2 separate regions of the Homo sapiens genome follow, and region 2 is linked to region 1. Evidence: fine-mapped expression QTL. A gene starts in region 1. The other region holds a variant in brackets. All regions are shown on one strand. Distances are between the middles of the regions.

Region 1 (4,362 bases):
AATTGAGGAAGCGCTTCCCCGTGCCCACCTCAGGGTACTGCTCCGCCAGCCCCCACTCGGGCCAGCAGAAGCTCTCTGCAGAGAAGAGCAGGCGGCTGCCACTCTGGACGAACTTCTTCAGCAGCTCTGTGGGGCTGCCGGCCAGAATCACGTCGTAGCTGGGTGAGGAAGGGGAGGATGGGCAGGGGTCCACTGGGAACCTCAGCATCCTTACCCCGCTCCCTATCCCCAGCCCCGTTACCTATCCACAAACATGATGATCATATCCTCCCGGTCAGCGTATTTCTCCATTTCCTTCTTTAACCACCGGACCTTCTGTCCTCCACCAACTGTTCGAGCCACATCACCCCCTCGCCACTCCTCTCCCAGGCCCAGGGTCTGTGGAGAAGATTGCCCCGTGCCAGGCAAGGGGTGGGGAGTTGTGGGGGGAACTCCTGACCAGGCTTACCGTGGGGACCTGGGCATCCAGACTTCAGCCCACCCCTCCTGCTGGGACCCCCTCCCAGGGGCCTTTCCCTCTCCTCACCCGCACAGTGTAGTTGAAGAACTCCGCAGAGCGCAGGAAACGCAGGTACCCCTCGGTTTCAGCTGTGGCCACAGTGATCACCAGCAGCTTCTCTGTTACCAGAGGGAAATGGCACTTGAGATCCACCGCCCAGCTCCGGGCCTCACGTGCTTTGCTGTCCTCCCTCTCACTCGACTTCCCTCCCTTTCTTCCTTCCCATTCTTAAACTCTTCTCACCCAGGAACACTCTGACCCCAAGGAGGGCAGGGTGGGAGTGGTGCCCAGGAATTCCGAGTCCCTTTGCATAGGGAGGCTGGAAACCCCAGTTCAGGGTAGTGATGGGCGAGGGGCTTGGCGCGACTCAGCCTCAAGAGCACGCTGGGCGGGGGACGGGCCAGACACCTCCTCGAGCCTCCGACCCTCTCCGGGCCAGGCTGGCAGGCACGCCAGCCTCTGCCCCCTCGGCCGTGCCGGGCCTCCCCGGGATCTCACCTGGGTTGACCGGGTCTCGGCCCCGGGGCCGGTCGGAGGCTGAGGCCGCAGGGGGCAGCAGCAGCGGCAGCAGCAGCAGGAACCGGGGTCCAGGCCCCGAGGAGGTCATGGTGGGGAGCGGGCCCAGACAGCACCCAGGATCCTGGGATCTCCGCTACGCGCCTGGATCCCAGCTCCGGAGGGGAGCTCTGGAAAGGGGGCGCTCGGGCTGCTGTGCGGCCGCCGCGGGGAGCAGCTTGGCTGGGGCTACGCCCTGAAAAAAAGGCGTATCCGGAGGCTACAGAAAGCTCCAGATGCCGGCGCCACAGACAAGGCGAGGATTGTCCCGGGCGCACGGGAGGCGGGGGAGGGGCGGCGGCTCGGGCCGGCGGGCGGGAGACAGGGACTCTGGGCTGAGCCAGCCGCTTGACACATGTGGAAGCTGAAACCTGGACAGGGGAAGTGACCCCTGGCGGAGGGTCGGGCGGGACGCGGGGGCGGGTCCTGGCCGCAGCCCTGCCCAGAGAGTGCGGGCGGAAGACGGGGAGAGCGAGAGGCTGGCGGCGACAGGGAGGGAGGAAGCCTAGGAGTCCGCCGCGGGACGGAGGCCTGGGGGAACTGGGAGTTCAGCTTTCTGCAGAGGGCCACTAGGAACCTCGGATTGCCCACGGAAGCCAGCCACTTTCTTTGACAGTCCAGCCCACCTCCTCTTCTGCCCGGAGAAGCTCCAGGGGCTGCCTTTGTGATCACAGCATCTTCACAAGGACCAAAGGAAAATAAGATTTCTTGTAAGAACACCGTGACCACATCTTTAAAATGACCCATTTCGTGGCTCCCACAAGATTTACACCTCCACACTGAGGCCGGAAGTGGTTTTGCCCCTATAAAACATGGCGAAAAGCTTTCTTGTCTCCAAGGAAACGCCACGTAATGAGTCAAAGCTGTGGCGCACGCGCAGAAGTACAAGCTACCGGAAGTGATGGCGCCCCTACTAAAGCCTTGGGGTTAGTACGCGTGCGCAGCAGTTTCTTCCGACAGTTGTGTTGTGCCAATGGTGGAGAAGAAAACTTCGGGTATGTGAGCCCCCGCGGTTCGCCCCCTTCCCCTTCCCAAGTCAGTCCTAGAATTTTCTTACCTAGTCATTCCTCTTTTTTGGTCTCGCTCTTTCGCCTAGGCTGGAGTGCAGTGGCATAGTCATAGCTCACTGCAGCCTCGATTTCCTGGGATCAAACCATCCTCCCACCTCAGCCTCCGGAGTGGCTGGAACTGCAAGCATGAGGCCCCACGCCTGGTTAATTTTTAATTTGTTATGTGGTGACGGGCTCTCGCTATGTTGCCCAGGTTGGTCTCCAACTCTTGGCCTCAAAGCGATCCTCCTGCGTGGGCCTTCCAAAGTGCTGGGATTACAGGCGTGAGCTGCCGCGCCCGGCCCCAGCTATTCCTCGTAAATCCCTTCCTCAGCCCTCGGGTCCTGGCGTTGACCCTTCATTCACGTTTTATTGGTGCCTGCTCCAAGCCGGGCGCTGGGGATGAAGAGGAGAAAGACCCCTCTTATCCAAGCATTGGCTTTTTCTGGAAGGGGGGCAGAAACGCAGACCTAACACTGTATTTTACTGTGATTTGTGATTTGTGCTATGGCAGAGGGAAGCACAGCGCCTGGGAACAGGGAGACGTGGCATCTAGCCCAGGTTCTGGGAGGCAGGGGACTGTGAAAGCTTGAAGGAAAAATGAAAAAGCTTGAATTGAGTCTTGAAAGTCTAGTTAGGGTTTCTCTCAGTGGGAACCTCACGTGCAAAGGCAGTGAAGCAAGAAAAAGCAAGTCGCTTAGGAAGCCAAGTTCACAGTTTGGATCTTACAGAGTAATAAGAAAGGATCGAAGGCTGGGGAAAGGTTACATTTTGAAAGGCATTATACACACTGCCCAGGAGTTTGAACTCTGTAGGGAAACACTGGAGAGCCAGCAAAGACTTTTTTTTTTTAGACAGAGTCTTGCTCTGTCACCCAGGCTGGAATGCAGTGGTTCTATATAACTCACTGCAGCCTCAACCTCCCATGCTCAAGTGATTCTTCCACCTCAGCCACCTGAGTAGGTGGAACTACAGGTGGGTGCAGGCCACCATGCTGGGCTAGTTTTTATATTTTTTGTTGAGATGGGTGTCTCACTATGTTGCCCAGGCTGGTCTTGAACTCCTGAGCTCATGTGATCCTCCTGCCTCGGCCTTCCAAAATGCTAGGATTACAAGTATGAGCCACTGCGCTTGGCCCTTTTAGTTTTTCTTTCTTTCTTTTTTTTTCTTTTTGAGACGGAGTCTTGCTCTGTCCCCCAGGCTGGAGTGCAGTGGCGCAATCTCGGTTCACTGCAAGCTCTGCCTCCCGGGTTCACACCATTCTCTGGCCTCAGCTTCTGGAGTAGCTGGGACTACAGGCGCCCGCCACCACACCCAGCTTATCTTTTGTATTTTTAGTAGAGACAGGGTTTCACCATGTTAGCCAGGATGGTCTTGATCTCCTGACCTCGTGATCCACCCGCCTCGGCCCCCCAAAATGCTAGAATTACAGGCATGAGCCACTGCGCTTGGCCCTCTCAGTTTTTCAAAGGCATCGCAGTCTCCCAGCCATCAGTTTTTTCATGTTGGCCTCAAGGTCTGAAATACCCCGCTGTCTCCCCTAGCCAGGTCATTCACCAGTTAGGCCTTAACCTAGACTTACCTTCTTCTGGGAAGTCTTCCCTGACTACTCCAAGGCCAGGTTGGGTGTTTCTGTCCTGGGCTCTGCAGCACTTTATACTTCCGTATCCTAGCCTACTCCATGCTGTACTTACTGTGTTTGTTTCATTAATCATTTGTGTTTGCCACTGGACTGTAAGCTTTGGCATCCCTAAAACCTAGAGCACTGCCTGGCATTTGGAGGGGAGACAGAGTAGTACAGTGATCATAATCATATTTTTTTTTGTTTGGTTGGTTTTGGGTTTTTTTTTTTTTTTTTTTTTTTTTGAAACAGGGTCTTGCTCTGTCACCCAGGCTGGAGTGCAGTGGCACAAACACAGCTCACTGCAGCCTTGAGCTCCTGGGCTCAAGCAATCCTTGCGCCTCAGCCTCCTGAATAGCTGGGACTACAGGTGTGTCCCACTACACCTGGCTAATTTTTGTATTTTTTTTGTAGAAACATGGTTTTGCCATGTTGCCCAGGCTGGCCTCGAACTCCCGCGCTCAAACAATCCACCCACCTTGGCCTCCCAAAGTGCTGAGATAACAGGCATGAGCCACTGCGCCTGGCAAGGTCATGCTTTTTGATGCTGGGTAGTTCTTTGACTCCTGACCTGGCCACTTGTTAGCTATGTGAACTTTGGACACATTTCTTAATCTCTGAATGTTGGTAAATTGGGG
Region 2 (4,381 bases), 60 kb after region 1:
ATCTCAGCTCACTGCAACCTCTGCTGCCCGGGTTCAAGTGATTCTCCTGCCTCAGCCACCCAAGTAGCTGGGATTACAGGCACCTGCCACTGCGCCCAGCTAATTTTTGTTGTTTTTTTGTTTGTTTTTGTTTTTTGGAGACGGAGTGTTACTCTGTCACTCAGGCTAGAGTGCAGTGGCGCCATCCCGGCTCACTGCACCTCCGCCTCCGAGGTTCAAGTGATTCTCCAGCCTCATCCTCCTGAGTAGCTGGGATTACAGTCATGTGCCACCATGCCCTGCTAATTTTGTATATTTAGTAGAGACGGGGTTTCACCATGTTAGCCAGGCTGATCTCGAACTCCCGGCCTCAGGTGATCCGCCCACCTCGGCCTCCCAAAGTGCTGGGATTACAGGCGTGAGCCACCTCTCCTGGCAAGTGGGACGGCATGCTGCATGGGCCGGGAATCCCCATATGTTTCACCAGCACAGCTAAGTCATCTGCCCACTTTTAAGCCAACTGACAGCCAAGGGAACGAGCGGCAAACTGGCAGCAGTGACACCCACAGGCAGAAGGCAGCCCAGGGTTGGCTTGTCTCGGCCTTTTGTGGAGTCCCAACTCTGTTGTCACCCTCTCCTCCTTTATCCTCTTGCCAAAGCCAAGCTCATTTTCCCTCCACAATGAGGGGATTTTCTCCATGGTATAGCTGATTTTGGTTTTGCTTCAACGGCCAAGTTTCTTCTCCAGTGTAATTTCGGCCAGCACACTGGTCCGACCAGGCCCTACTTGCCCTCAGGACATCTTGTGGCTTACTAATTCTACTGTCTGCTTTTTCCGCCCCAGTTTCCAAAAGGGAATTGGCTGGCCTGGGTGACTTCCCTAAATTTTTGAGCCAGATGACTTCAAAAATCATTGGCCAGCCTATATGGGATCCTGGTCCAGTGAACTGTATATTTGGGGACTTGGTGGGTGGAAGAGAGGCAGGGTCACATGGTGTCACACAGCTGCCTGGGCAGCGGTTTCCATGGAGGGGCCAGGGGTAGCACAGGTGATGGTGCAATGGCCTAGGGCATCCATAGAGGGTTCTCAGAGCCCAATAACTGTACTAGACAACAAGGCTGCTCTGTCGGGAAGAGAGACCAAGTGGAAGAACATGAGGCACCAGTCACGTGACTGCAAAAGCCACTTTGGACATTTCAGCCCCAATAGCTGCTGCGAGAACAGGAGGCCTCAGACATAGTGGAGCAGAAATAAACCAGAATACAAGACTCACGAAACTGAGGGCATCATCACATTCTTGAGTCCGAACGGCCTCAAGGCTTCCATGGCTCGAGAACGTCCCCCAGTTCCCACAGCAGAAATTCCAGTGCCTGTGGGTAGAAAACTTGAGTTCCCTCATGAACATGGCTTTAATAGGGATTGGAAGTGTTTCTTGCCTACTAGACTTAGGATCTTGGGAAACTTTTTGGCTTTGACAGGCTGAAGAAGGGACTGTGGAGGTAGGACTATTTCTTTCTTATTCTTTTTCCTTTCTTTCTTTTTTTTTTTTTTTTGAGACGGAGTCTCGCTCTATCACCCAGGCTGGAGTGCAGTGGCACGATCTCAGCTCACTGCAACCTCCATCTCCCAGGTTCAAGCAATTCCAGGCAGGACTATTTCAAGATAGCCATGTAACAGACAGAAAACGGGCTGGTTCTTCCAGCAAATGGAATTTTAAAATTCCTCAATGGGGCCGGGCGCGGTGGCTGACACCTGTAATCCCAGCATTTTGGGAGGCCAAGGCGGGCGGATCTTGAGGTCAGGAGATCGAGACCATCCTGGCTAACATGGTGAAACCCCATCTCTACTAAACATACAAAAAATTACCTGGGCATAGTGGTACGCACCTGTAGTCCCAGCTACTTGGGAGGCTGAGGCAGGAGGAGAATCGCTTGAACCCGGGAGGTGGAGGTTGTAGTGAGCCGAGTTCATGCCACTGCACTCCAGCCTGGGAGACAGAGCAAGACTCCGTCTCAAAAAAAAAAAAAAATTAGCCAGGTATGGTGATGTGTGCCTGTAGTCCCAGCTACTCAGGAAGCTGAGATGGGAGGATCACTTGAGCCCAGGAGGTCAAGGCTGCAGTGAATTATAATCATGCCACTGCATTCCAGCCTGGGCAACAGAGCAAGACCCCATCTCTTAAAAAAAAAGAAAGTTACCACTTTGGGGAAATTGCAGACTCTAAGCCTAAACTCTACTGGCC[C/T]GATACACATGGCAAAATATTTGGTCAGGATTCTGGAAGAATATCAAAGAATTCACAGGGCAGAGGAAAGCTTTGAATATTATGAATGAGGGAAAATTTCCATTCATCTCATAATTCATACTAGAGAGACTCCCAATGAATGGCACCAGCGGAGGAAAATCCTCAGACGGAGGCAAGCAGTTATCGGAGATGCGAAAATCACAGGGGAGGACGTGGCACAGAATAGCGTGGAACCCACGTCACAGCTTGCGCCCAAGAGCATCACACGGGAGAGAACCTGCGTCCTCAATGAACGGCGTTCCAAAAAAGCACAACCGCACCAAGCATCAGATAAGCCATTCTGAGCTCAGTCTTTGGAATGTAATGAATTGGGGGTGGTGATCATTTGAGAAGAAATCAGCCCTTATTCATCAGCTGATGATTCCCACTGGAGAGAGGGCGGGTGCTCGTCACGGATGACGAAGCTCTGGGGGTGCTCCGATCACATATAACACAAGAGGCTGCAGAGGGGACCCAAGGGGGGCTGTCAGGGGGCCTCAGGGTACACGTGACATAAAACGGTTACAAGAGGAAAACATGATGAAAAGGGCAAATTTAGAAAGTGATTTCAGGCTGGGCACTGTGGCTCGCACCTGTAATCCCAGAACTTTGGGAGGCTGAGGTGCGGCGGGGCAGGGGAATCACTTGAGGCCAGGAGTTCAAGACAAGCCTGGGCAACATAGCAAGACCCCATCTCTACCAAAAATCAAACATAAATCAATAAAACATTTTTAAAAGCTTTTCTTTTTTGGAACTTGTCCTGTTAGCACCAGCAATGGCTGTGGGGAATGCAGACACCCTTTGGGGGAGTTTGCTCAGATGACACAGTCGTGCACATGTGATCCTTGGGGCAACTCACAGGGGTGCCCTAATGCCATGTACAAGAATCCAGGCCCAGGCCAGGCGCCGTGGCTCACGCCTGTAATCCAGCATTTTGGGAGGCTGAGGCGGGCAGATCACCTGAGGCCAGGTGTTCCAGACCAGCCTGGCCAACATGTTGAAACCCCGTCTCTACTAAAAATACAAAAATTAGCCATGCATGGTGGTGTGTGCCTGTAGTCCCAGATACTTGGGAGGCTGAAGCAGGAGAATCACTTGAACCCAGGAGGCAGAGGCGGAGGTTGCAGTGAGCCGAGATCACACCACTGCACTCCAGCCTGGGTGACAGAGTGAGAATCTGTCTCAAAAAAAAAAAAAAAGAGGCTCGTGGCCTCTGGGGAACACGCCCCATGAGAAACTGTGGTGGTGGCTGCTTCGTTCATTCCTTCATTCTTTTCATATCTTTGGAGCATCTGTTCTGTGCCTGGCACTACTCTGTGGGGGGATAGAGGACAGGGCAACCTTGGGGGTCAGAGGAGGGTCAGGGAAGTAGCAGCTGCTATTTCAGATTACAGGTGTGTGTGTGTCCCAAGGTTCCAGAGGGGAGGGAGCTTAGGTGGGGGCTCTGGGAAAGAGGGAGGAAGACCCTGATCTAATGACTGCCTACCACGTGTCAGGCTGGCAGGCGATGTCTCACAGCAACCCTGCAAGCTTGGTCCTGTTTTCTGCACTTTGCAAATGGAGAAAATAAGGCACATGTACAGCTGGTAAGTGGTAGAGTCGGTACTGAGACTGGGTTGGCCTCACTCCAAATCCCATTTCTCTTATTTATTTATTTATTTTTAATTTTTATTTTTTTCTGAGATGGAGTCTTGCTCTGTCACCCAGGCTGGAGTGCAGTGGCGTGATCTTGGCTCACTGCAACCTCCGCCTCCTGGGTTGAAGGATTCTCCTGCCTCAGCCTCCCAAGTAGCTTGGCTTACAGGTGTGTGCCACCAAGCCTGGCTAATTTTTGTATTTTTAGTAGAGACGGGTTTCACCATATTGTCCAGGCTGGTCTCAAACTCCTGACCCTCATGATCCACCCGCTTCGGCCTCCCAAAGTGCTGGGATTACAGGCATGAGCCACTGTGCCTGGCCTCTTTTTTTTTTTTAATTTTTTAGAGACAGGGTCTCACTCTGTCACCCAGGCTGGAGTGCACTGGCGTGATCACGGCTCACTGCAGCTTCAACCTTCTGGGTTCAAGCTATCCTCCTGCCTCAGCTTCCCGAGCAGCTGGGATTACAGGCATGCACCACCA

Evidence for each region. PIP is the estimated chance that this variant, and not a neighbour inherited with it, causes the effect. A credible set is the group of variants that fine-mapping cannot tell apart.
Region 2: its variant is the best candidate, but not a certain one, in a credible set for the expression of ZNHIT1 in whole blood (TOPMed, PIP 0.88).

Annotation. Positions count from the first base shown.
Region 1 is chr7:101,216,169-101,220,530 of GRCh38, forward strand. It overlaps ZNHIT1 (zinc finger HIT-type containing 1), which reads left to right and starts at 1,997. Exons shown (of 5, transcript NM_006349.3): 1 at 1,997-2,049. The coding sequence starts at 2,028. It overlaps PLOD3 (procollagen-lysine,2-oxoglutarate 5-dioxygenase 3), which reads right to left and starts at 1,413. Exons shown (of 19, transcript NM_001084.5): 1 at 998-1,413; 2 at 527-618; 3 at 242-378; 4 at 1-158. The coding sequence starts at 1,106. RefSeq lists enhancers at 519-1,041, 1,590-1,709, 1,803-2,344 and silencers at 840-959, 1,020-1,069, 1,210-1,489.
Region 2 is chr7:101,276,174-101,280,554 of GRCh38, forward strand. No RefSeq gene overlaps it. Among named protein-coding and RNA genes, the nearest start is that of LNCPRESS1, 21 kb to the right of the region's middle. The variant C/T (reference allele first, on the strand shown) is at 2,223.